Linked DNA regions of Homo sapiens. The protein of the gene in region 3 interacts with the protein of the main gene of each other region in a pairwise test. Each region holds a gene or a part of one and is shown on either strand. Other genes may lie near its edges. The genes, in order: GPRASP2, KCTD6, FAM124B and SH2B2.

Region 1 (6,979 bases), on a different chromosome or scaffold from region 3:
TATTAGTCTCCTCCCCTGGTCCAAACCAGGGCTGGATTCCTTTCTGACCCTGGGTGCCAGGAAAGGTTTCAGCATCCACATTGACTAGTTCTCTATCCATAGACAGGCCCTTAGATTTAGTAACTGATCCAGACTCAGCAGTGGCCAGTGGCCAAGCAACGGCATTAGTCTGGGACACTCCTTCTGCCTGTGACACTGCTTCAGTCCCAAATTCACTCTGGGCCCATGCCTGGGCCTCATCCTTGGGCCTTGCTCCAGGGATTGCCTTGGCATCAGTTTTAGAACGAGCGCCACCTACTGCCCTGGCATCGGTTTTGGGCCTGGCCCCTGTGATTCCTTGAGCCTCCGTTTTGGGTCTTGCACCACCCATTACTTGGACCTCAGTTTTGGGCCTTGCCCCAGACATTGCTTGGGCCTCAGTTTTGGGCCTTGCCGCAGGCACAGACTTGGTCTCAGTTTTGGGCCTTGCCCCAGTAGTTGCCTGGGTCCTAACCTTGGGTCTGACCACCAGAGGGACATCATTCTCTCTCTCAGGCCCAGCGATAACCTCTTCCCCAGCCTTCTTTTCAGGCTTGGCCTGGGCACTAGGCTCAATCTCTGCCCCAGTCATGGTACAAGTTACAAAGAAAGTCAGGTAATATACTCCTCCCGTAGTCTAAACCTCAACCACAGATCTGTCACAGGTTTGTTTCTTCACACTCTGATCTTTAGGTGATTAAGGATATAAGCTTGGGAATAAGAGTTAGAGTCAATATCCAGTCCAGTAGTCACTCAGCCTCCTTCCCAAACACAGTCTCAGTCAATAATTCAATAATACAGATAGAGTGAGAACAGGTACAACCAAGCTAAAGGAAGACAGATATTTCCTGGATGGGTGCAGACCCGTTGAGGGTGGTTGTCAGCAGCAACTCCACCACCAGCAGAGCAGCCACTGGAGGTGGATCTAGGGAGAGAGAATGAAATGAGGCTTTGAGTCTCTTCCAATTGTATGAGACGTATGCAGTGCGACTGATGTTGAATGCTAGGTGGGACAGCTGGGCTTTGAGAAAGTCTCTCTGGACCGGCTGCCTCCTACAAAACAGGTCCAACAATGGTGGGAAAGTGTGTCGGCAATGGGAGGGGCCAAGAAGCCCCCAGATTGGACCCTAATCACTCCCGGACCCATGCTGGTCTCCACTACCCCGCCCAAAAGTATACCCGCTCTCATACCAACCTTCACTGATGTGGTGCAGTTTCCCCCTCCTTTTCTTGTTCAAGTGGTGTCAAGCCCCACAGCTGACAGAAGGGGGTCCTACAGACAAGTGAACATACAGGAGAGAATGGAGTGTGAGTGCTTGGTAGGTAGGTGGGCACTCTGGCCCCTGTGACAAATATCTGTCTTCCCATTCAAGAGTTCAATGTATCTATGGTTTCCTGTGTCCTAGTCCCTGCTCTCAGGTCTTTTCTGAGTCACAACCCAACCTACACCTATCTCGTGTCTCCTGCAAGAAATAAAAAGGATGCTGGCACTGTGCAAATCCGGCAGAATAGAAGTGGGTCTGCCACTTCTACTACAGGTGGAAGTGGATCTGCCACCTGCCATGCTCTCTCCAACTGTCCCCTGCATTGTCCTCTCCCCCTTCTCACTAACCTCCAGAGCTGTGAGCCAGTCTCCTCCTCCTTGCCTTTCTTGCAGAATTGGCCAGCCTTAAAGTAGGCCTATGGACAAACACATGAAAAAGTAAGACAGTCAGGATATGAGTGGTGGCAGAAGAGCACTTGGTAGACAGGCCAACGCCAAGGATAAGAGTCCCCATATTATTGGTATCTGTCTTTCAACATTCGGGGTTTTGCTGGTGGAATATTCTCGTTTTATTTGGGCCCTGCTTCAAGGTTCCAGAGATAACAACTCCTTCTCTTGACGTCATATTCTTCCCATTACTCCCTTCTCCAATTCTGAGGATTCACCACTAGGTGCGCCACATCCCCTTGCTCTGCGCAGCATAAAATGGGGGAAGGGCGCCGCATATTCTAGAAAACAGGTTGTGAATTAGTACTTGTCAGTATGTCTCCCTCATCACCCCCACCTCCAAAGCCCACCCTTTCATGCCCCCAGTTTAGGACGGTGGGGGAGACAGGTGGGGATGGAAGGTGGGGGGAGCGCCATTAGAGAGGTGAAGATTAGGAGGTGCTCCTGGATGCCTGACTTGCTCTGGTCACAGTCCCCTACCCCGATTCGGGTCCCCAATCAGTGTTTAGCGCCCAACCCCCATCCCCACACACCTCCAGAAATCCAGGCAATATTCGTGCTCCTTTATTTCAAGCCTCTCCTCTACAGACGCTCACTGTGTCCTGTCAGAATACGCCAGACCTACCGCACAGACACAAGACTTTGACATCAACCTGGAGCCTGTGGGAAGGGAAGGCACCGAGGACATGGGGCCCCACAGGCCCCTTTCGGGAATCGGGACCCGGAGTAGCAAACGCGGCTCACCTCCGGCGGACTGGGTACAGAGCCGGGACGCCGACCCCCGCCGGCCTCGCCGGGCGCCCCCCAACGGCCTTCCCGGGCGCCCCCACAGCGGCTCCCGCTCCGCCATTTCTCCCGCAGGAGCCTCCCCCACAGCCCTCTCCGGGCACAGACACCGTCGAGGGCGGGGCGCGGGCGCCTGCAAAGCTGGCTGGGAAGCGGTCAGCGCGGTTCTCCTCCAAACGATCTGGCGGTGCCTCCCGAGCCAGCCCCTCAGCCCTTGGCCAGGCCCGCTCCGGTCACCGCCTCCCCATCGCCAGGGGTCTCGGGCACTGCGCACCTCTCTCAAGCGCCTGGCTCCGACCGGATCGTCTCCTCGTTGCCAGGCTGTCAGGGTCCGCGGGGCAGGCTGCCTGCTGGTCCACCCTGCCAGACCACCCCCGCAACCCGGACCCCCACCTCATGCACCCGCACTTGCCTTCAGAGGCCCAGGGCCCAGGTCGTCGGCCTCCCCCTCCTCTCCTCAGCTCTCCTCTGGCTCACTTGGAGCCACTGCTTTCCCCGCGATCCGAACGGGAAAGACGCGTCCCGCCCCCCACGCCTCTGCACCAAAGTAGGCAGGGGCTGCGCAGGATGCGGCAAGAACCGCTCGCCGCGAGGGTGTCGGGAAGGGGGGCGGAGGGATACGGCGCGAAAGTGCTTGACGCCCCCATCCCAGGCCCACCGTAGTTCCGACCCCGAGGTGGGCAGGGCCAGGATGAGCCCCAGCCTGGGCGTGCGGGTTGGCACCAGGCTGCCTCAGGAGGCCCCCACGGACCCTAACGTGGCGACCACTACCATATTTCTGTCGCTGCTGTAATATATGGGACCAGCGGGCGGCTGGGGGCCCGGGCAGGGGACAGGATCGCGAGGTCGGGAAGAGCCGCGCTGGAGAGAACAGCGGATGGATACCAAACCGCCCCGTGATGTGTCTGCACCCCCGCCCCAACCGCCCCCCTCACAGGGACTGCTGGGTGTCTGCCCCCTCCCTCTCCCCAGTCCCCTAACCCTCCTTTCTGGAAGCTGATGGGAAAGGGGGTGTCAGCACTGCAGTGTGGGAGGGGAGAGGCGATTTCAGGCCATACAGGCCCGGGGCTCTAGGGTGGTCCTCTTGTGCGTTTCTTTCCCAGCTTCGTGGAGCCACGCAGGGGAGGAAGGTACACCTGCTCTTAAGTGAACTCCGGGGCAGGGGGCTCCCATCAAGGACTCACCACTGCCCCTCTTCTAAAAGAAGGTAGACCTAGACCTCTAACCCTAGGAAACCAACCACTGGTCTGCACCAAACTCATTCCTTTCTGCCACACTGCTCTTTCTCATTTCAAATGGTGGCTCACGTTGGCATTGCGCCGTCGCCACAGTTGCCCCCAGAAGAGGACCTTTCCCTGTCAGGACCCGCAGGAGGTCATAACAGTCCTCTCTCTTTGATGCCGCCAGGTAGGGATGGTCCTGGCTCCTCTTCGGTTCCCTGTCAAGTCTTCTCTTGCCATGACATTTGGCAGTGTGGAAATGTGGCTGGTATTCGAACCAGCTTGGATCTCAGCCACCTGCCACAACTACCTGCTGTTTCAGCAGTCATTCTCAGGAGAGGATCCCACCGTGCACCCCCCTCCCCGAGACAAAGCAACCTGGCTCCTTTTGAATCCTCTTCTTTCACCCCAACATCCGTCCTCTACTCTTGAGCCCCTCCTTTCCCTGCTTCCTGCATGGGACAGACAGAGCAATGTGGTTAAATACGAAGTTGATGTTGTTGTTACTGCTGTCCATTTGAAAACTCATTTAGGTGCTACCCTTATTGTGTTTGGCAAGTAACGGTCCCCTAAAGATGTCCATGTCCTGTTCTCCAGAACATGTACCATTTTATATTTCCTGGCAAAGGATCATTAAGATTGCTAATCAGCTGAATTTAATTTAAGATTATGCTGGATTATCTTGGCCAATGTAATTGCAAGGGTACTTTAAATGTGGAAGAGGGAGGCAGTGACTCAATATCAGATTGAAGCATCATGAGAAGGTCTACACTGGCCATTGTTGGCTTTGAAGATGGAAGGAAGCCAAGATCCAAGAAATACAGGCTGTCTCCAGAACCTGGAAAAGACAAAGAAACAGATTCTTCCCTAGAAATGCCAGAGGGATAGCTCCTCTGGCAACATCTTGATTTTAGTGTAATGAAACCCTTTGCAGATTTCCAGCCTCTAGGACTGTAAGATAATAATAAATTTGTATTATTTTAAGCCCTTCTATGTGTGGTAATTGGTTAAAGCAGCAGTATGAACCTAATACACTCACCATCCTGATGAAGTCTATTCCCCTTGACTTTCTTTACCCGTGGATCAGTCTCTGGGGAAGATCTATTTTGGAGCTCATGCCTCACCACTACAAACATCAATTGCCTCTTCTTTGCTTCCTAAAGGACAGTGATTTTTTTTATGTCCCTTATAGGTAATCTTGGAGAAAGTTCCTTTTTGCTGAAACCACTGATATTTCCCAGGTACAAAAGGGAACCCTATTCTTTTGTTGTTGTTGTTGCTGGTTTTGAGAGGGACTATCGGTGTTGTTGCCCAGGCTGGCTGGAGTGCAATGGTGCCATCTTGGCTCACTGCAACCTCCGCCTCCTGGGTTCAAGTGATTCTCCTGCCTCAGCCTCCTGAGTAGCTGGGATTACAGGTATGCCCCAAGACGCCTGGCTTATTTTTTGTATTTTTAGTAGAGATGGGGTTTCTTTATGTTGGTCAGGCTTGTCTGGAACTCCTGACTTCAGGTGATCTGCCTGCCTCGGCCTCCCAAAGTGCTGGGATTACAGGCGTGAGCCACCGTGCCTGGCCAGGAGCCCTATTCTTATGATGAATTTTCATATATTTCCATACAGCTTTTGTTACCAGATATTTACTATAACTGTACAATATTTTGCTGATATGAAGAAAACATGTGAGGATGATTCTGTACCACATCTGGAGATGAATGTTATGTATTAGAGGAAGACCACGTTAACTCTGCCTTTTTCATGGCCTTAACTGAATGGTGGATTTTCTCTGTTCCACAGCATACTCTCATGAATGAATTACAGGCTTGGGAGAACAGAGCCTGGGTCTGCTGGAATTTGTTGGCGCGTGTACATCTCTTTGCCTTCCTGAGCTGTTCTTCCCCTTTCATAACGTTACTGATGCCTTTCATTTATTCAACAAATATATATTGAGCTCCTACTTTCTCCTAGGCAGTGGGCATACAGTATAAACCAAAGAGAAATGAATCCCCTTTCTTGTGGTGCTTACATTCACCTGTGGTTTCCTGTTCAATTCCCTATTCTGAAAGTTTGCAGATGTATCGAAAACTATGCCAGCACAAGTTACTGTGGTAATTCTGGAGGCGCTGGGATCTTGCTCTCAAGATATTTACCTATAGAGGGGTGGTTCTACCAAAAGCTGATCAATTTTACTGTGAGAATTTGAAACGTGTTGGGCAATTTGATGTCAATTCGTTTAGAAAACAGGGACTATGATAGACATTTACTGAACTGAGAAAGGCCCTGTTCTAACCTCTTTGTGTGTAAAGACATTATAGACTATTACCAGAATGTATTATAACTACCTCCTTATACCAGATGAGGAAACCAGCTCGGATAGTTTGTCATTTTTAAAGTGGAGAGTAAATAAAAAGTTAAAAGAAGATGCTGACCTATGCCTGTCTGACTGGTACAAGCTATTTATTTCCTCTTAAAATGTGTTCCAGTCTAATAGATTGCATCAGCCATGGTTTTACTCCTCAGTGCCTCCACCAGCACCTGTGTAACCCTGACTGGCTCCTAAAATCTAAATTTCCAAAACAAATAACTCACAAGCATTAAGCCCAGGACAAAGAGGCAGCTGTACTGACTCATGATACCCACCTCTCTGTCCCCAACCCCACCCCATCTCCCACATGCACGCTTGTGAACTTGCACACTCGTATATCCCTTGCCTGTGCAGCAGCTTGCATTACTTCCTTTTGTCCCTCTTACTCACTGTGGACAAGGACCTGTTTTAACCCTTTTAGCTTAACTTTGGACTTTCTACTGTCATTTTCATTTGCAATTCCCCAGACATGTGATATTTAGTATGTATTCATATGCTCATTTGCCATCTGAATATGTTTTTTGGCCAAGTGTCTGTTCCCATCATTTACCCAATTTTAAAATGGGTTGATTGTTTTCTTATTGTTAAGTTTAAGAATTCTTATGTATATTTTGGATAGCAATCTTTTATCAGATGTCTGTTTTGCAAATAGTTTCTCTGTGGCTTCTCTTTTTCAATCTCTTAACAGTTTATTTTGTAGAGGAGAATAATCTTTAATGAGACCCAACTTATCAATTTGTTCTTTCATGGATCATGCTTTTGTTGTATCTAAAAAGTTGTTGACAAACCCAAAGTTACCTAGATGTTCTATTATGTTATCTTCTAGAAGTTTCATAGTTTTGCCTTTTAAACTTAGGTTAGTATCTGTGAAAGGGGTAAGGTC
Region 2 (7,268 bases), on a different chromosome or scaffold from region 3:
ACTAAAGATGGTTTTGAAAGACAGCAAATGCAACCGAGCACAAACAGCTATAAAATTCAAAGAAGCCTCTGACCCTGAAAAATCAGTTCACCTGAAAAGATGTAACCTTTGATGCAAATAAAATTCTTGTGAAAACAACACTGCCCACTCCCCAAAGAATATAAAGCAGTGCTGAAAATTCAACCATGTTTAAGCTTCAAAGGTTATTGTGACTAATGTATAAATTCTGACAGTGTCATGTTAGCAGGTAATTAAGCTTAAGAAAACACATACTGAAGAATTTATAGAAACCTTAAAAGGAAGTATTAATTTTCTAAAGTAGCATATCTGAAGAAATGCATACATAATTCAGTAAGTTAATAACTTAAAAAAATAACCTAAGAACCCTTAAATGCCATTCTCCCTATCACTGCAGAATTGCAATTACAGGCCTAATGGTTATGATGAACTAACTTAACAAAAATATTCTGGGTTTATCATTCCTGCTATAGATTAAGAATTCTCCGGGGCAAAAGTCCTAATCCTATATAACTACCTATATGTTGCAATAAAAACCTCCAACGAATAATAAAAAACTCCAACTACTGACTTCCCAGAGTTTCCAGGCAGCCCTTTAAAAATGCTTTTTTACTGAAACCTTCGTGTCTGGTAGTCAGAAAAGACTCAATAAACTCCCTCTTTCTATACTTACCTTCAAAATTGCCTTGTATTGAGTTTTGCTCTTCTTGAAATGTGGGAGTTTGAAAGCGAAATACTTTTTATAGTAACTAGTTCAGCGACATCTAAAGGAGTCTTTGGGGTTAACATTCACATACAGGCCAGCATAAGTAGCCAGGCATACAAGGATAATGTGATTATGGTTAGATTATCCTTAACCATACCACTGCAGAAATGGATTTTTCTCTACAAGTAATCATTTTCTCTTTCTCCTTTCTCAACCATGTGGTCTAGAAGAGAGAAGCTATAGGTTTAAAAGTGACCTAATATTAAAAAGCTGTCACAAATAGTCACAAAATCATAACATTCCTCTTAACCCTCAGTTTCCGCAAGATAAAACGGGATAATACCACCTTCCCAAAACGGGGTAATTACACCATTTAGGCACAACACAAAGGCAAAAATTGGCCTATAAGAGTAACACATCAGGACAAGGAAAGAGAACAGGTTCCCAGGGAGGTCCTGTAGTTGAATTCTGCTCCGTTACTGATTATGAGACCCTGAGAAAATCACTCTTTATGCCCAGCTTCTTCTTTGGGGAAATGGAGAAAATAAGGGAGATCATGAATATAAAACCATCTGTAAACTAGCAAGTATTAGACAAATGTGAAAACATTAGTGGCAGCAGCATAAACAAAATTTCTAGGTTAACATGAGAAACTTGAGTGTGAACACAAGTAATTTAGAGCATTGGCCTGGAGACGGCAAATATGGAGGAGGCAGCCTCTTAATTTGCTTCAAATCTCCCCAGGTCCTCCTTTTCCCAGAGCTCCAGAAGGGAGAACTATATACAGGTAAAGGGGAGTGTCTAGTTTTCCCAGAGTTCACCAAACACCTGAGCTCCTGATCTCAGAAGGAACTTCTTTAAAGCATGACTCGGGATTATCTCCAAGTTAAAGCTGAATCCAAATACATACAGGTACTCCATTTTAAATGGACCCCAAATATCAAAATCCAAGCGCACTGAAGGATTCATAGGGTTCACCCTAAGATTCCTTTAAGTAGTAATGCTTTGGTTAAAATATGATTTATGAAAATTCAAATCACAAAACTTTGGAATGGCATCCATGGCTATCCTGACCACTCCATCGTTCATATCTAAGGCATAGCACAAAATCAAGTATCAGTATGGACTGATGGTTTCGGCCAAAGAGAAAATACTCTCAACCTACCAACCCTGCTGACAAACACATTTTCCTTTTCCTAGCTACATATTCGTTCATTTGAAAACATCTCAATCTTGGGCTCAGGACTGTGCTACATGCTGTCCCCAAGCTTCTCTCCTATCCCAGGATGATTCAAGTAATAGGGCATTTGTGACAGCGAAAAAAAGAACATGCCAGGGGGATATAGAAGAGATACTTAGGCTACCCCAAATATTCTTAGCCGAGCCGGGTCATCCCAGGTCACTTTGCCACCCAAACCTCTTCTATCACAAAGTCCTAAAATTGGATCCATCAACTTGTTCTAGAACTGGTATACTTGAACAGAAACATGGTAACTTCGGCAGAATATCCAAACAGGATCTCTGTCACGTTTCATTTCCCCGTCCCACCCCCAGACACAGCCTCCACCACTGTCAGCCCAGCAGGTGCTGCCAGGGCTCCCCATTACCATGGCCATTTATCACCTCTGACATCAAGCATTAAAAACGCCACCACACACACACAAATCTAGGCATAAAGAACTCAGCTGCGATCTGAGAGTCTCTTCAGGGCAGAAAATCCCAAAGGCAGGGTTTTGAGTCCTGCCTCAAGCTTTAAACTAGGGCAATTGGTGGCTAATAAGCGCCATCTCCCAAAAACAATCATTTTCGAGCACACCCCAAATATCTCCGTCCGGGCCGCCCTTCGCTGCTGCCCCGCCAGCGAAGCCCCCGCAACCCGACCCGGCCAGGGGTAGGGCGGGCGATGCTCCGGGCCCGGACGAGGGGCGCGCCGCGGGGCTCCGAACCCGGGCCCGCAGAAACCGCGCATCCCCGCCGGGCGGGCCCCGGAACCCCCGCCCAGGCCCCGCCGCGGGCACCTCCGCTGCTGGCTCGTGCCAGCCCGGGACGCGCGGTCCCCTCAACGCGGCCCCGCCGCCGCCCCGTTCCAGGAGCCCCCGCCCAGATCCTCCTCAGCCCCGCTCCCCTGGCCGCTCGGCGCAGACGTCTCCTGAAACCCGGCCCTCCCAAACCCCGGCCCCGCAAGCCCCGCGCCAGCCCCACTCACTGCGCGGCGGCGGCGGCTGCTGCGGCCGGGCCGGGAGATGCCCGCGGCCGGAGAGCGCGAGCGCGGGGACAAGCGAGCCCGCGCCCGGCGACGGCGGCGGCGGCGGCGGCAGAGGGGACGACTGAGCCCGCGCCCGGAGTTGCGGCTCCAGCTGCCCGGCGCGGGCGGCGCCTTCCCAGCAGAGCCGCGGCGCCACGAGCGCGGGCGCCCCCTAACGGCAGCGCGGGCTGGAAGCCAGAGAGCGGGCGGCCTGAGGAACTCAGCCAGCGCAGTCGGAGCCGCGCGGTCAAGACCACACGACCGCAGCCCCGAAGCCCCGCCCCGAAGCCCCAGTCCCGCCCCTTAGGCTCCGCTCCGAAGCCCCGAAACCCCGCCCCTACGTCCCGCCTCCGCCCGCAGCCTGGGGTCCGCCCAACCCCAGGCCCACTGCGTCCTCAGGGGTGGTGCCTCCACAGCTGTTTCTCCTTAGTCATTTCACGAACTTGTATGGGCCCCCCACTATATCTCAGGCCTGGGGGTTTAGGAGATACAGCGGCCACCAAGACGGAGGCGGGTCCTAATCAAAGGAGAAGACAGACAAGACTCAAGGAAACAGCTAATAGACAAAATAATGACAAGTTATGGCCGTAAGTGTTGGGAGGGACATGATTAGAGGACTTAGATGGAGAAGAAGGGAAGGGAGCCCCTGCTCCAAACGCAGTGGCCGAGGAAGACCTGGACCCCGACCTGCGGCCAGAGCTCCTCCTGCCTGCCCTGCATTGGGGAGACAACCCTGCGATGAGGCCTGTGAAGAAGCCCCCGGGGCCACCGGGGCAAGACGGTCTGGTCCGGCCTGACGGGCAAGACAGCAAAGGGCTGCTGGGCCCAGAAGCTCAGCAACACGGGCAGCCAGGTGGAGAGAAGGGCAGAGCTACCTTCAGCAGACAAAACGACCCATGCAAAGGCTCTGGGGCCTGGAGGAGCTCGACCCTAGATGAGACTGGCGCTGGTATTGTCCCCACTTCACCAGGAAGGAAGCCAAGGCTGCAGAGGATGGGCAGCACCTAACGCCTCAGGGCTAATTGGTCTCCATCCGTCCACTCGTTCCAAGTCCATTCACTTCCTGCTAGCCAGGCCACTGTCCCCTTCCGGTGGGACCAGTTACCTGATGCTGGGTTTAACCTTCTCCACCAGAATAACCACTGGCCTTAGAAACTCACTTGGGTTTCACGTCTGCATGTGTGTGAGCTAGCTCTGGGGTTGAAATTGTATCAGCATGATCATCACAGTTATATCTGATACTTGATTTGTCTCCAAAAGCTCAAATTGATAGGTTAAATAAATGACATATGCTTCATCAACATAACTGAGTGCTACATTATCAAATTCACAAAGACTAGGTGAGAATACAGGGAAATGTGTGTGAAAATGATCAATACACAAACTAGTACACATGATATCCTGATTTTATTTTTAAAAACATAAATATATACAGACAAAAATTTTGAAGGAAATACATCAAACCATTGACCATCGTGTTCAAGATAACAGTATGGGAATGTTAATGGCATTACTTCATAACGTTCTTCTGAATTTTCATGAATATTGAATTTATAATCAGAACACATAAATATTGAATTTATAATCAGAAAAATACAATGAGTTTTGGTTTGGTTTTTCTTTTTTTTTTTTTTTGCCCCCCACTCCTCCCCACCCCACTGGGTTTTGTTGTTTTTTAATAGAAGGACAATACCAAAATTACCCAATACTCAGATCTCCAGAATTTGGTGCCACTGAAAACCCAGAATTGCCTCTGATTTACTGGGTATCCTTGAAAGAGTCATTTCCCCTCTCAGGGCTTCTATTTCCCCATATAAAAACTGATGGATTAATTTTGTTGGTGATTTTGTCAGACCTAGTCCCTCCTATCTTAAAATTTTTATAACTAGTGCTAATTGTACTTTCACTTTTGTATTTTATAATTGATAGATGGCTATTGAAATGCAGTTGGGTTTTATATAATCTTATATTCAGCAAAAGTGAACTCTTTCAGTTCTAATAAGTTTGTAGGTTCTCTTGAATTCGCTGTGCAAATAATCATAGAGTCTGCAAGTCATAACAGTGTGGTATCTTCCTGTCCTTTTTTTCCTTTTTCTTGCTGTACTGTGCTGACTAAATTCTCTCACACAATGTTGAAGAGCAGTGATGGTAATGGGCATTTTTATCCTGTTCTTGACTGCTTGTAACATATCACCATTAACTATAGTGTTTGTTGTGGATTTTTTGATAGATATTCTTTATCAGGGTAAGGAAGCACTATTCTTCTTTACTATGAATGGGTGCTGAATTTTATCAATGTGAGATTCCCCCCATTGCAATGTAATGAATTACAACCATGGATCTTACTATATTAAACCATCCATGTATTCCCGGGATAAACTCGCCTTGATAATGTATTTTTTTAAGTCAATGCATTTTTATTCAAGGAATTTCACACGTCATGATGTATTATTTTTTCAGTATACCGCTAGATTCCATTTGCTGATATTTCATTTAGGGTTCCATTTGCTAATATTTCATTTAGGGTTTTTGTATCCACGTGGATGACTGAGATATGCTACTATTTGCTTATTCTCTCCTCGTCTGGCTTTGCTATCAAAGTTACATGAGCCTCATAACATACCTTAAGGAATGAGTGTCTATTCACTAGACTGGGATTTTCTGTAGTTTGAATGTTCTATAGGATTCTCCCGCAAACCATCTGGATCTGTTGGTTTGGGGGGTTGGGGGTGGAAAGGGTTTATATTGGAAGCTGTTTGCCTCCACAGAGCTCAGGGTTGCAAGCCTGCTGGGGAAGGCTGGCTTCTGGTTTACAGCTGCCCCTGACCCTCTGCACCTTTCTTTTCCAGGTGGCCACCAAGTATCCAGGCTCCTGTGGTAAAGATACTGATCCTGGTCTGCCCTGGGGCCAGGCTGACCTGGAGGGGGCTGTTTATTATTGCAGCTACACCTGTTACAGGAAGGAACCAAGCCCAGCACGGTGCTGGGAGGGCAAAGGGGCACCAGCAGTTGACAAGACAATGAAGTGTGGAGATCTGAGTCCCCTCCCTCTCTCCCTTCTCCCAACTCTCACTGCCTAGCCGACCTCACCTCCTACTTGTCAGGAAAACCTTTCCCCTTCAGTGGGAGCCCCCTAGAACCCTCCTCTGCCCTCTTTTGGAATGACCTGCATTGCACTGTCCTCCCCTCATGAGATGGCTGGGGGATTCCACCTCCTGTCCAGGTGATCCCCTCCCTGGGCTCTAGTCCATTCCTTCTCCCACCCTTTAGCCTCTCCAGGCTCAGATCTTCCATCCCTCCCTCTCTCCAGTCCCCATCTCCCACGCCCATCAGCAGATAAACAGCCTCAGGTCTCTGTCCCTGACTCAAGAATTTTCAGACTTCTCCTTCGACACAGTGTCCCCCTCCCTCTCTTCCTTTGCTGTGTCCCCCCACTTCCCCTAAGACCCCAACCCGTAACATTCAATCTGGCCTCAGGGCCCACCTCTCCATCTAAATGGCTCACCAGAATCCTCCTTGATACTAAATCTGAAAGAACCTCCTCCGACCTGCATGGCTCAGGCCTCTCCGCAGCAAGGCTTCTGCAGTGACGTCTGCCAGGGGACAGCCCCTTCCCTTGGCTTCTAGGATGCATGTTCTCCTCCTTCTTCCATAGCTCCTCCTCTTAGACTTACAAAGATGCTCCTCTTGCTTTACCCCGACACTTAAGCTCAAGTTCCTGTTCAACACAATCCCCTCCTCTCCATGTACCCCTCTCCATGGAATGGTTCAGCCACCTCCATGGATTCCTTTACTGTGTCTGAGCCAAAGGCTTCCAAATCCCTGTCTCCAGCCCAGCCCTCTATCCTGAATCCAGAGCTATAGATCTTGTCTGTTCTATAGCCCCAATTCTGTACAAGGTACTGTGCTAGGTGCTTTTACCCACTGTATCAGTTACCTTTTGCCACATAACAAATAATCCCAAAAGGTAGGGACTTAAAACGGCTTCCAAGTGCTTTCCCCTCTGTTTCTGTGGCTCAGGAACTTGGAAGCAGCTCAGGGTCCCGCAGGAGCTTGCAGTCTAATTGGCGGCAGGAGCTGCACTCATCTGAAGCCTGGAGACTTCCCTTCCAAACTCACTCATGTGGCGTTCAGCATAAGGCATTCATTCCTTGTCATGAGAGTCTCTCCTGACAACATGGTAGCTGACGTCCCCCAGAGCAAGTGACCCAAGAGAGAGCAAGATAGAAGCCACAATGTCTTTTATAACCCAGCCTCAAAAGCGACACACATATGATTATGGTCCCACAGATCAACCCT
Region 3 (7,041 bases):
CATGGAGTTTCTCTTTATCCAAAAAACTCTTCTACACTCCCCAAATGTGACTCAACTTTCCAAAGTAACTAAGTTGTTTAAACTGTGGTTCCATAGCAAAAATGTCAGTCAGCCTTAAAGACAGGAATGATTAAAATCATGTCCCTTGCTGCACACACACATTACATTTTTGTTTGACCATGAGGTTGATTTTAAGTACTAGAGAGTCGCTAAAACTGAAAGAAATTTTAGATGCCTTGGAAATTATGGGGTTTTATAATAGGCAACTAACAGAAACAGTGCCTGTCTACCTTATGTGAGCAAGAAGGTGAATAATTTAGAAATCATTTAATATGGAATATGATTCATGTTTTATTAACAAGTCAAAGTGATGACAACAAAATTAACCAAATGGAAAGACATCTCATCTTGTAGTCTCTTATTACTTTATTCAATAGGCCTTAAGGAGCTTCTGACCATTTCTTAAGGACAGAAGCCACAGGATATTTTGCTGTGAACATGACATTCATCCCCCTGCTTGCACATTTACACACATACACTGGACTGCAGCGGCTGACCACATGAACTTTGAGGGTAGATAGATACTTCCTATCTTGGGCAAATAACTGACCCCCTGGAAAGCTCAGTTTTCTTATCTCCAAAATGGGAAAAATAGTAACTTCATAGGTTGTTATAAGTATTAAATAAAATTATCAATTTAAGAGAATCCTTAGTATAGGGCATAATATGAACAATAATAGCTAAAATTGAGTTCTTGGCACTATCTTAATTATGTACTTTATAAGTGTCAGGTCATTTCCTGTAAGTAAGTATGAGAGAGGAAGATGCTAATTCTCGGGTGCCTTTATTGTGCTAATGAAGAAACTGAGGCCCACAGTCATACAGCTACTAAGTGCCCAGGCTCACATACCATGGAAAGGCAATGCACGGCAGCTATCATGACTAAATACACACATGCTATGTTAGGTTTTCGAGGATGGTTACAAAGGAAGGCTTTAATTTCAAGTTTTTTTAAGAAAGCATTCTATCTAACTTGGTATGTGGTAAAATTTGACAGTGATGCAAGATGCTTAAAAATTAAGTCAATACGAGTTGATGGGTGCAACAAACCAATATGGCACATGTATACCTGTGTAACAAACCTGCACTTTGTGCACATGTACCCCAGAACTTAAAGTATAATAATAAAGAATAAAAATTAAGTCAATAGTACTGCAAACTTAACATCCCTAAACAAGCTCGGCCAACATAGTGAGACCCCGTCTCTAGAAATAAAATAAAATAGCCAGACATGGCGGCACGTGCCTGTAGTCCCAGCTAATCAGGAGGCTAAGGCAGGAGGATCACTTGAACCCAGAAGGTGAAGACCTCAGGGAGCTATGATGGCACCACCGCACTCGAGTCTGGGCAACAGAGGAAGACTCCCATCTCTAAAAAATAAAAAAATTAAAAATTAAAAAAACCATATCTAAACATAAGTATGACTTCAACTTCCTTAAGTCAGATTAGAAGAGCTTGTGACATTCCTGAGCCCAAAGAGTAAACAAAGGATAGGGGTATAGTTGATGGGCATTTAAACGGCAAGCCTGAGAAAGGAGGCCGATTCTTTAATAGGATTCTGATCTTTATAGTAGAATCCTGTCTGATTCTACTATAAAGTACTTGTGTCAGCTGCAAATTCATGGAATCTGAACTTTCTTATCTGTCAGATGAGATTTTATGAGATCAGTGATTCTCAACCCTGTTACAGATTACAGTCATCCAAGAAGCTGTAAAAAAGTTACCTAGGCCTGGATGTTCCCAGAGATTCGGATCAAACTGCCCTGGGGTGGGAATTTATGAAAGACCCTAAGGGACGCTAATATGCAACCAAGTCTGAGAACCACTAGCTTAGGCCCATTCCGATGTAAAATTACACAGCTCCATGAGCCTCTACAAGATCTGAGACAAAACAGAAATACCTGAAGCAGAATCTTGTTGCCATCGTAGTCCTGAGTCTGCCACCTGGTGCTGCTGATAGGCATGCATGGATTGGGTAGCAGAGGCACTAACTGGCCGATCTCTTGAACCTTAAACTGCAGCACCGAAGACTCTTTGGGGTCCACTGACATTCCCGGGGGCAGCTGCTTCAGGGAGAGCTGCAGAGCAAAGCTCTTGGAGGCATAGAGCACGAAGAAACAAAAATTGCTCTTTTGCAAGGTCGCTTCTCTCTGCAGGATCATCTCGTAGAGTCTGATGGCGTCTTCATAGTTATCAAAACTGCAGTACAGCGTCACCCTCAGGATCTCGGAGCCACAGTGCACCTGCCTCACCCCCCAGATGGGCAGCTGACTGTCCAGGCTGTAGAACTCCTGATTGGCAAAAAAGTAGGGACACAGCCTTCCCCGAGTGTCCTGGGTGGGGTAGCACTGCCATGGCGAATGCTGGAGAGAGTCCAGGACGCGAAATAGCCTATCCTCTCCCGGGCTTTCGTGCAGGAAGAGCAACACGGACATCCCTGGAAACCGGGACCGCTTGGAATGGGACTTTTCACAGTATTTCACAGGACTGGCCCGTTCAGACACCTGAAAGAGCCGGACCTCTGGGCAAATGCAATCCAGGAGCTGGTCCAGAGTCCTCTGCAGAAGGGAGCCGTGCCCAGAGTTGGCAAGAAGATGGACAGTCATGGCCAGAGGCCCCTGTGTCTCATCCATGGAGGAACTGCCTGAGGCTGACAAAGACAGCGTGTGTAGAAGGCCCACTGTTCAAGTTTCTGAAATGAATGAAGAAGCGGCCCAGCCTTCAGCCCGCCTGAAAACCTTCAGCTGCAGCGGCTACTTCTGAGCAGAGCTCTTAACCAGACTAACACGTGCTCCTGGCCACCCGTGGACTTACGGCAAGAGAAGCTCACACCAGCTCGGGTTCAGCAGCCTCCCTCTCCACACAGCAGCAGCGGGGTCACGTCATCCAGCTTGTGCATAATGTAACTGCTTGTGTTTAGCCTTTTCAGGCGTTCCCCAGGGTTTCTGCGTGACCTAAAAACCTATAATCCTGAGAAACACCCAAATGGGCGGCTCTTATAGACACTTAGTACAGGAAATGACCGGCCGAAAAGGAACATGAGTTGGCTCTGTTAGGCTGATAGCAATCTGTTTAGTTGAAAAGACATCCATTTTATCAACTTACAACGGGTTCTCATTTCCTACTTACGGTTTACAGTAGCCTGCTCCACCAATCTGAATACAATGACTTCTTGAAAACAATTCTCAAAACCTGACCCTTTGCCAGTTTTTTTTTTCCTTTGTCTCTTTATTTCATTTTGTTTCTGAACATTTTCTGCTAGGGCACGAAGAGAAGACTTTATCTAAATAATTTTGACTTCACTGAAAATTATTTGCTGTACCGAAAATTCTGAGTGTACTAAAAAGACATTGAGAAAATTAGTCTTCCTTTATTCACGCAAATTCTTTAGAAAGAGTGAGAGCTTTCCTATAATTGCTCATATAATTATAATAATAAATAATTATAATTAACAATTGTAATTATAATTTTTAGTGTCTAATGAGGATCTACTATGTACCAGTCATAAACTGTTCTAATTCTTAAAGTAATTAGTTTTGTTTTGTTTTGGAGATGGAGTCTTGCTCTGTCGCCCAGGCTGGAGTGCAGTGGCGTGATCTTGGCTCACTGCAACTTCCACCTCCCAGGTTCAAGAGATTCCCCTGCCTCAGCCTCCCCAGTACCTGGGATTATAAGTGCGCCAACACGCCCAGCTAATTTTTTTGTATTTTTAGTAGAGACTGGGTTTTGCCATGTTGGCCAGACTGGTCTCGAACTCCTGACCTCAGGTGATCTGCCCGCATTGGCCTCCCAAAGTGCTGGGATTACAGGCATGAGTCACCACACCTGGCCCTTAATGTAAATTAATTTAATCTTGCAACAAACCTATGAAGAAGAGATTACTAGCCCCAAATTACAGATGAAGAAACTGGGGCATAGAAAGGCTAGGTAACTTGCCCAAGGTCTCACAGCTAAGAAGTAGCTGAAGGATGATTTGAACCCAGGAACTTGCTGCACTGCCTCTCTGGGGCCTTGAAGTCCCAGCCTGGGTATTCTTCTTGTAAGGAAAAGATATAAAAGCAAGTTCTGGTTAAGGATCTAGATTTGCAGACTCTTGAGCTGTTGAATCTTAAACGGAATAATCTTCAATGAGAAAGTTGTCAAGCTCTAAACACTCACCCTAAATGTGTTCTAAATATTGATTTAAAAATTATTTGTGGCCACGCATAGTCGTCACGCCTTGATCCTAGTACTTTGGGAGGCCGAGGCGGGTGGATCACCTGAGGTCAGGAGTTCGAGACCAGCCTAGGCAACATGGCAAAACCCCGTCTGTACTAAAAACACAAAAATTAGCCGGGCAAAGTGGAGCATGCCTGTAATCCCAGCTACTCAGGAGGCTGAGGCACAAGAATCACTTGAATCCAGCAAGTGGAGGTTGCAGATCGCACTACTGCACTCCAGCCTGGGTGATAGAGCAAGACTCCGTCTCAGAAAATAAAAAATAATAAAAATAAATAAATAAATAAATATTTTTAAAAAATCATTTGCTCTCCTGATAGCTGTGCTCCTCAACAGGTATGAACAAGCACTTTTTCTAAACACAATTCTTTTTAAAAGAGGCAATTGGACCAGGCGAAGTGGCTCACAACTGTAATTTCAACACTTTGGGAGGCCAAAGCAGGACAATCGCTTGAGCCCAGGAGTTCCAGGCTGTGCTGACCTAAATTCATGCCACTGCACTCCAGCCTGGACAACAGAGCAAGACCCTGTCTCAAAGAAAAAAAATGTACTTCAAAAAGAGCTGTAAAAAATTAAAATAAAAGAGGCAAATTTATGAATCCTTATAATGAAACACAGTGTGACAATTTTTTACATTAAAAAATACTTTTGTGATGAAAAATATAACAACTTTATATATCTGGATTCCTTTAATAGTATAACAACCTAATTTAAAGTAAAATATTATTATCCAAGAAAAGGAGTTATTTCTATTCAGATTCACTATGTAAATCTAACGTACAATTCTAATCATTTGTGTTTCATAATTCCTGTACTTTTTGCATGGGAAAAATACATAAATACAATTTATAACAGAGGAATTGTTTCCTAGTTATTGTGAGCAGCTCAGTAATTAAATTCATCTTGTTTCAACTTTTAAAAAAATCATTAGAGGTTTTTTTTTTTGGCATTACAAATCTCAAGCTTTTTTAAAAAAAACTCGACAGCATTCATGTTATGCATTGGCATTGGAAGCAGATAACTATCTCATCTCTCAGTGTGAACACTCTCCCTTCCGCAACCCTTCCATTCACAGAGCTGATTGTACTTTAGACAAAACTATAGTTTTTGAAATAGGCTTTGAAATTCTGGAAATAACTCTAAAGATTTGAGGAGAAAAATTGTTCCCCTGAAACCACGATATTAACTCACAACATTTTGCACAAGGTAAGTATTAAAGCTCTTACATAGGAAAAGATTTTGTTTCTTGATATTATCTTCCATCTAATGCTGAAAATACACTTTTTTCCTGATGAGGTTGTCATTTCTTTCAGGATTGAAAAGATTTCATTAATCTGTTGGCAGCCAAAGTGCCAACAAATCCAAGGGGCAGGAGGCCAGGGAAGAGGGGGACCAGCCTCATTTCTGACTGGCTGTCTCTGTGATTATTTCCCCAGGAACAACGTGAAATACTGACTGACCTTCCCCAAACTGCCTCCACCTTTGGTCACTGCCTTCCACCCACAACAAATGCCAGATTCTCAGCTGTGCAGCACAACAGTGTTTTAGCATGGTGCTTCTGTTGAAGGCACAGACAAAAATACTAAGGGAAATCATCAGCTTTGACTCTCAGCACCCGGACAGCTGTCACTCCAATTCTCTATCTTATTTTTCTTAAACTTGGCAGGCAATGATGCCCAGGTTTCTGCAGTCATCAGCTCCTGGATGGCAGATGGTTGGTCCACTCCTCACAGCAAATGGAGAGGCTGGTGATGAGTCGCTCAAGCAAACCTAGAAAATCCGAGGCTCCATTGGAACCCATGAAAATCCTCGGGGATTTGTCCTTTCTACAAAATACAATGGGATGCATTATAACCTCGAGATTCCCACCCACCCCCAACCCAGGAAAACTCTGAGAAAAAGTTCCTTTCCATCTTTAATTTATAAAATATGTTTATCTCACATGTCAAGAGCCAGGCGTTGCACCAGGAGCAGAAGATAGAATCGTCACCATCCCCCACTTTGGAGGGGCACCCTAAATGATGCAGTCAGTGCCATGATAAAGGGTGCTGCAGGATGTATGGAGACCCCATGGGGAGACACTGAGTTAGACGAGGGGGCCAGGACTGTCACACACTGGTGCAACTGCAAGCAGTTCAAGGTGGCTGGAGTGGAGGTTCAATGAAGAGGAGGGTGGAAGGAAGCCAGGGGCCTGATCAGGAAGGGCCTTGCAGAACACTTTATTTGAATCTGACCAGAACCACCTAAAAGTCAGTATGAAAAGGGAAGTGATGCTTTGAGGAAGCCACGGACACAGCAAGATATGCAGTCAAAGGACAGGTTTGTTGGCTGGTTGGATGCAGGCAGAAAACCGTGGTGGCTAGTCCAGGAGGCATTCCAGGGTGGTACTTGCAGATGTTTGGGTGAAGCTGTCAGTCACCAGATAAGGAATACTGGAAAGGAGGGCAGTTAGGAGTGAGGATGAGGAGGGCAGGGTGGTTGTGTTGTGCATGGATGCCCGTGGGATGGCCAGAGTTGAGATGTCCAGTGGCCTGTTCACTACAGCTTTGAAGGGAACAGTAAACCAGAGAATAGGAATTGGGGAACTGCTGGTCTTCAGGCAGCCATGGGAAAGGATGTGACTACCCAGAAAGAGAAGACACAACAAGGACAGAAGAAGGAAGAGGATAGGATTCCAGGAGTACCCAGTTTAAGAGACAAGCAATGTTTAAGTGGCACCCAGGGCAAAATGGAGAGTGGAGTGTGTTATGAGGACTTCAGAAC
Region 4 (4,376 bases), on a different chromosome or scaffold from region 3:
CCTGTCCACACCGCCAGGCTTCTTCCTGCCCTGCCGCCCTGTCCACACCGCCAGGCTTCTTCCTGCCCTGCCGCCCTGTCCACACCGCCAGGCTTCATAGATCTGTCTAAAAACGCCTTTACCCTCCCAGTCCGGGCCTCGACTCCTCCTCCTGGCATCCAAGCTCTCCGTATGACTTGGGCGTGCTCCCCATCCCTCACTGTGTCCTGAATGCCCCCTCCTCTCTTTTCAGCACCCCTCATTGTTACCACCTCCCATCTCTCTCCCTCACAGCTCCAGTAAAGCCCCCTCCCGATCCTAAGCCCTAACCCTTGCTGTTGGGCCCTCTTTCAGGTGCTGCCCGACGCCCCATGGGGAGTCCCTCAGCTGTCCCACCAGAGACAGAGCTGCAAGGGGGCCTGGCAGGTGTCAGGCCACACTGGGCTGGACGGGGGTCCCTGATGGACGGGTGTCTCTGAGAGTGGCTGCCCCGCAGTCCCCGCCTTCCCCGTGGGAGAAAGGACGACAGGAGAGCCGGGTGCAGTCCCTAAAACAGGCTTTTAATAACATCGTGTCTTCACTGAAGAGCTTGGCGTGTCCCACCCGGGCGGCGCCGCGGGCTAGTAGAAGGAGTACTGGTTCTCCACGGCGCGCGCGCGGCCGGGCGCGGCCTCCGGGGGCTCCTCGGCGGCGGTGGCGGCCACGGCCTCCAGCAGGCGCTCGGCGCTGTTGCTGCGGCTCCGCGCGCTGAGCTGGCCCTCGACGGGGCGCGGGGGGGCGGGCCCCGACGCGGCAGAGGACGACGAGGCGGAAGACGAGGAGGCGCCGGCGGCGTCGGAGGGCGAGGCAGGCGGGCAGGCGGCCGCGGCGAGGCTGGAGAAGTAGTGCTGGCCGGGCGAGTCGCTCCAGCAGGCCGGGGACGCGGGCGCGGCAGGGGGCGTGGGGCCCGGCTCTGCAACAAGGCGACGGCAGGGCGTGAGTGGGGACCTGGGCTGGCCACATCCTGCAGGGAGGCCGGGATCCCTCAAGGGGCCAGGGCCCACGCTCAGGTTTCCGAGTTGCAGCCCATGTCCTCGGACACATATGCAAGCACACCCGCCCACATGCATAAACAGAAGCACACACACATACATGTACCTAACCACGCGTGTGCACGCCCATATAGCCACATGCACAGGAGTGCACACACACGCATACATAATGCACACGCTCGCACACAGGCACACAAGCACACGCGTGCCCATGCACGCATGCACACGCTCATGCATATGCGCACACACGCACACGTAAGCGTACGCACACGGGCACATGCACACATACACTCATGCACACACACAAGCACACGCATGCACATGCACCCATGCCCTTAGTGCTCGGTCCCAGCAGCTTTGCTCTGAGCCTCCCCAGTGCAGGGCTTAAGAATCCATATGCCCAGCTCCTTTCATCCCACTTGCCCCAATCCACACCCCTGTCCCCACCCCCATACACCCACCTGCACTGCTGTTGGGCGCCCCCTTCCCCTTGCCAGGAATCATTAGGGACCTGGCTGCCTCTAGGCTGCCACTTCTGCCTCCATTCCTTATGACGTGACTGCTTGAAATTGCTGTGGCTAGGCTAGGGTGGGAGGGACACGGCTGAGGCTATGGGACAGGAGACCTGGGGCTCATCCCACCCCAGGGACCACCTTCTTGAGTAATCAACGGGAAGTCTTCTTGAGTAATCACACCAGCCAGGTGGCGGCATCTTACCTGGTGGGGGGTCCTGGGCCCGCACATAGCTGCGAAGGGTGATGTCGGCCGAGCCCCCTGACTCCAGTGGGATGGGGTGTGTGTGGAAGTGGCGGAGCATGTCAAGCACAGACTGGAACCACAGATGCTGTACGTGACACTGGCCGTGGCCGTTCAGGGACAGGCGCAGGTGCTGTGGGTACAGGTGGGTGTGGTCAGGGGCAGGTCCGGGGCTGGGCACCTGGGTAAGCGCCTTTGGGGGTTGATGGAAGGACCAAGGCTCACAGGGGCTGTATGGGGCTGTGTCAGGGCCGGGGGCCCCTCACACATGAGCCCCATCTGGAGATGGGGAATGGGGGCAACGGACCCAGGCTGAGATGGAAGGCATCAGGCATTGTCCCCATGCTGGGAGCACCTCCACTATGGGCCCATGCCCTACACACCTATAATCTCTAATCCCCTCCCTAATGCCAGAAGATAGGGATTACTGCCCCCATGTTAGAGATAGGAAAACCAAGGCCCAGGGAGGGGGAGTGACTGGCCCATGGTCACAGAGCACAGAGCAGGGAAGAAAACTCCTGTTTGGGTGGTTCCCCCAGCCCAGGAGGCTAGAGGTTGGCCCTCTGTCCCTGCAGAGCCAAAACCCGGAGGCATGGAAAGCTCCCCAGGGCTGGCTGGGGAGGAGTGACCGCACGCTGTGGGAACAGCTGGAACAGGGCTGGCTTCTCTCTAGGTCTCTAGGGCCTGTGTGAGGCAGGTGCCTCAGGGTAAGAAACCATAGGCCTGTGGTGTCTAGTGGAGAGCTGCAGGTCTCTGACTTAAGCCCTATTTTGCTCAACATGTATCCCACTGCAGAAACAAGTGGCTATCTCTGGGGTGTGTGGGGCAAGAGGGGAGCTAAGAGGAGTGGTTTGAGGGTACACGCATAGCCCCAAGCCCAGGAGGGGGAGCTGGTCTGGCCACCTGCATAAAAGACAGACAATCTGCTAGGTGTGGTGGCTCACGCCTGTAATCCCAGCACTTTGGGAGACTGAGGGGAATGGATCACGGGAGGTCAGGAGTTCAAGACCAGCCTGGCCAACATGGTGAGATACCCCCCAACCCTTTAAAAAACAAACAAAAAAATACAGACAATCCCTGGAGCGGGGTGGCGGTCCCACAAGTGAGCTCTGCCACTTAGCAGAATAAGTTGCTAGGACAATGCAGGGACTCAGCCCGAAAGAAACAGCACAGAGGGGTCCCACCACAGCCTCATAGCTGGGCAGAGCCTGCGCAGGGCACAGCTGGGTCCCTGGGGAGAGAAGAAGCAAGTTGGACGCATCCCAATCTTCTGCCAGACCTTCCAGACATTTATTCTGTGAAGGTGGAAAGAGTTGCCTCTGGGAAGGTAGTGATCTTCCCTCCCAGGAGGTATGTAAGCTGGAGGCTGGGGTTCCTGCTTTGTCCCACCATTTACTTATCAGGCCTGGGGCAGTCATCTCCACTCTGGGAGAAGAGCAGCTGGGTAGAGAGGTGAGAGGCAGGTTCAAGGCTGGGTCTTGTTCCAGGAAGGAGAGGAGCTTGCCACCCACCCTTTGTTCCCCCATCCTAGCCTCTGGCTTGGGCATGAGTCAGATCCAGGCCCTCTGGGAGGCTGCCTGGAGCAGCACTGGCTGAGAAGTAAATTGCACGTCACCAGGGATGGCCTTAAGCACCTGGTTGTCGGAGGAACTGTAAGGGTGGCTGCTTGCCAAGGAAATGTCCCTGGTGGAGGTGCTACCTCCTGCATGGTGGGGCCAACCTGGAGGAGGAGAGAAGCCACCAGAGGTTCTGCACTGAGCCACTAGGGGTTAGGGCAGCCGGGGTCCCTGCAGAGAGACACTGTCCCCCAGCTGCAGGCCTGGAGCAGGAGTCCTAAGGTTCTCCCTCCTCTAGTAGGGGCCGCCAGGAAATCCGTCCTGGCAGGAGCCCAGGCTGAGTGTTTCCTTATCGGAAACCTGGGATGCGGGGGTGGGCACTGAGGTTCCTGCCCCCTCTGGCCACATTGCACCCCCCCATAATCATTTGCCTTTGCTGTCAAATTTTCCTTTGAATTTCAGGTCAATAGGCCGGGCGTGGGGGCTCACGCCTGTAATCCCAGCACTTTGGGAGGCTGAGGTGGGTGGATCACCTGAGGTCAGGAGTTTGAGACCAGCCTGGCCAACATGGTGAAACCCTGTCTCTACTAAAAATACAAAAATTAGCCAGGTGTGGTGGTACGTGTCTGTAATCCCAGCTACTTGGGAGGCTGAGGCACAAGAATCGCTTGAACCCGGGAGGCGGAGGTTGCAATGAGCTGAGATTGCGATGTTGCAATCCAGCCTGGAGGATAGAGCGAGACTGTCTCAAAAAAAAACAAAAACAAAAACAAAGCATTTCAGGTCAATATAGCAAGGAATCCTCTTCCTTGAAAGCACACCGCCTGGGTGTACCATCATGCCTCTGATCCAGCTGGGTGCTGTTGGGATCGCCTTCCTGACTGTCTTCCCCTCCACAATTCTCCCTCCCCTGCAGGTCTCTGATCAGGCTGTCCCCTCCAATGCTGAACCCCACCCCCTAGACCCTGCACAGCTCTCCCACCCAGCCCAGCTCCTCCTCCCCTGCTGGGTCTCTAGGGTTTGCCCGTGTGTGTTCCTCAGGGGTTGGTGACCT

What was found.
Region 1: the proteins of FAM124B (region 3) and GPRASP2 interact in binary tests that used the Homo sapiens proteins (3 or more experiments, as listed by UniProt).
Region 2: the proteins of FAM124B (region 3) and KCTD6 interact in binary tests that used the Homo sapiens proteins (3 or more experiments, as listed by UniProt).
Region 4: the proteins of FAM124B (region 3) and SH2B2 interact in binary tests that used the Homo sapiens proteins (3 or more experiments, as listed by UniProt).

Annotation. Positions count from the first base shown.
Region 1 is NC_000023.11:102,708,501-102,715,479, reverse strand, and holds the start of GPRASP2 (G-protein coupled receptor-associated sorting protein 2), read right to left. Parts: upstream 3,033-6,979; 5' UTR 2,928-3,032; intron 2,641-2,927; exon of another isoform or gene 2,474-2,640; intron 2,390-2,473; exon of another isoform or gene 2,351-2,389; 5' UTR 2,263-2,350; intron 1,699-2,262; 5' UTR 1,631-1,698; intron 1,292-1,630; 5' UTR 1,214-1,291; intron 1,072-1,213; exon of another isoform or gene 944-1,071; 5' UTR 611-943; coding exon 1-610. Other genes in the region: ARMCX5-GPRASP2 (G-protein coupled receptor-associated sorting protein 2), read right to left, coding at 1-610. UniProt on the Homo sapiens protein: May play a role in regulation of a variety of G-protein coupled receptors.
Region 2 is NC_000003.12:58,487,832-58,495,099, reverse strand, and holds the start of KCTD6 (BTB/POZ domain-containing protein KCTD6), read right to left. Parts: upstream 3,005-7,268; 5' UTR 2,931-3,004; exon of another isoform or gene 692-2,930; intron 1-691. UniProt on the Homo sapiens protein: Probable substrate-specific adapter of a BCR (BTB-CUL3-RBX1) E3 ubiquitin-protein ligase complex mediating the ubiquitination and subsequent proteasomal degradation of target proteins.
Region 3 is NC_000002.12:224,399,076-224,406,116, forward strand, and holds the start of FAM124B (protein FAM124B), read right to left. Parts: upstream 3,033-7,041; 5' UTR 2,694-3,032; coding exon 1,962-2,693; intron 1,431-1,961; coding exon of another isoform or gene 1,344-1,430; exon of another isoform or gene 1,302-1,343; intron 1-1,301.
Region 4 is NC_000007.14:102,317,854-102,322,229, reverse strand, and holds the end of SH2B2 (SH2B adapter protein 2), read right to left. Parts: intron 1,900-4,376; coding exon 1,728-1,899; intron 932-1,727; coding exon 600-931; 3' UTR 519-599; downstream 1-518. UniProt on the Homo sapiens protein: Adapter protein for several members of the tyrosine kinase receptor family. Involved in multiple signaling pathways. May be involved in coupling from immunoreceptor to Ras signaling. Acts as a negative regulator of cytokine signaling in collaboration with CBL.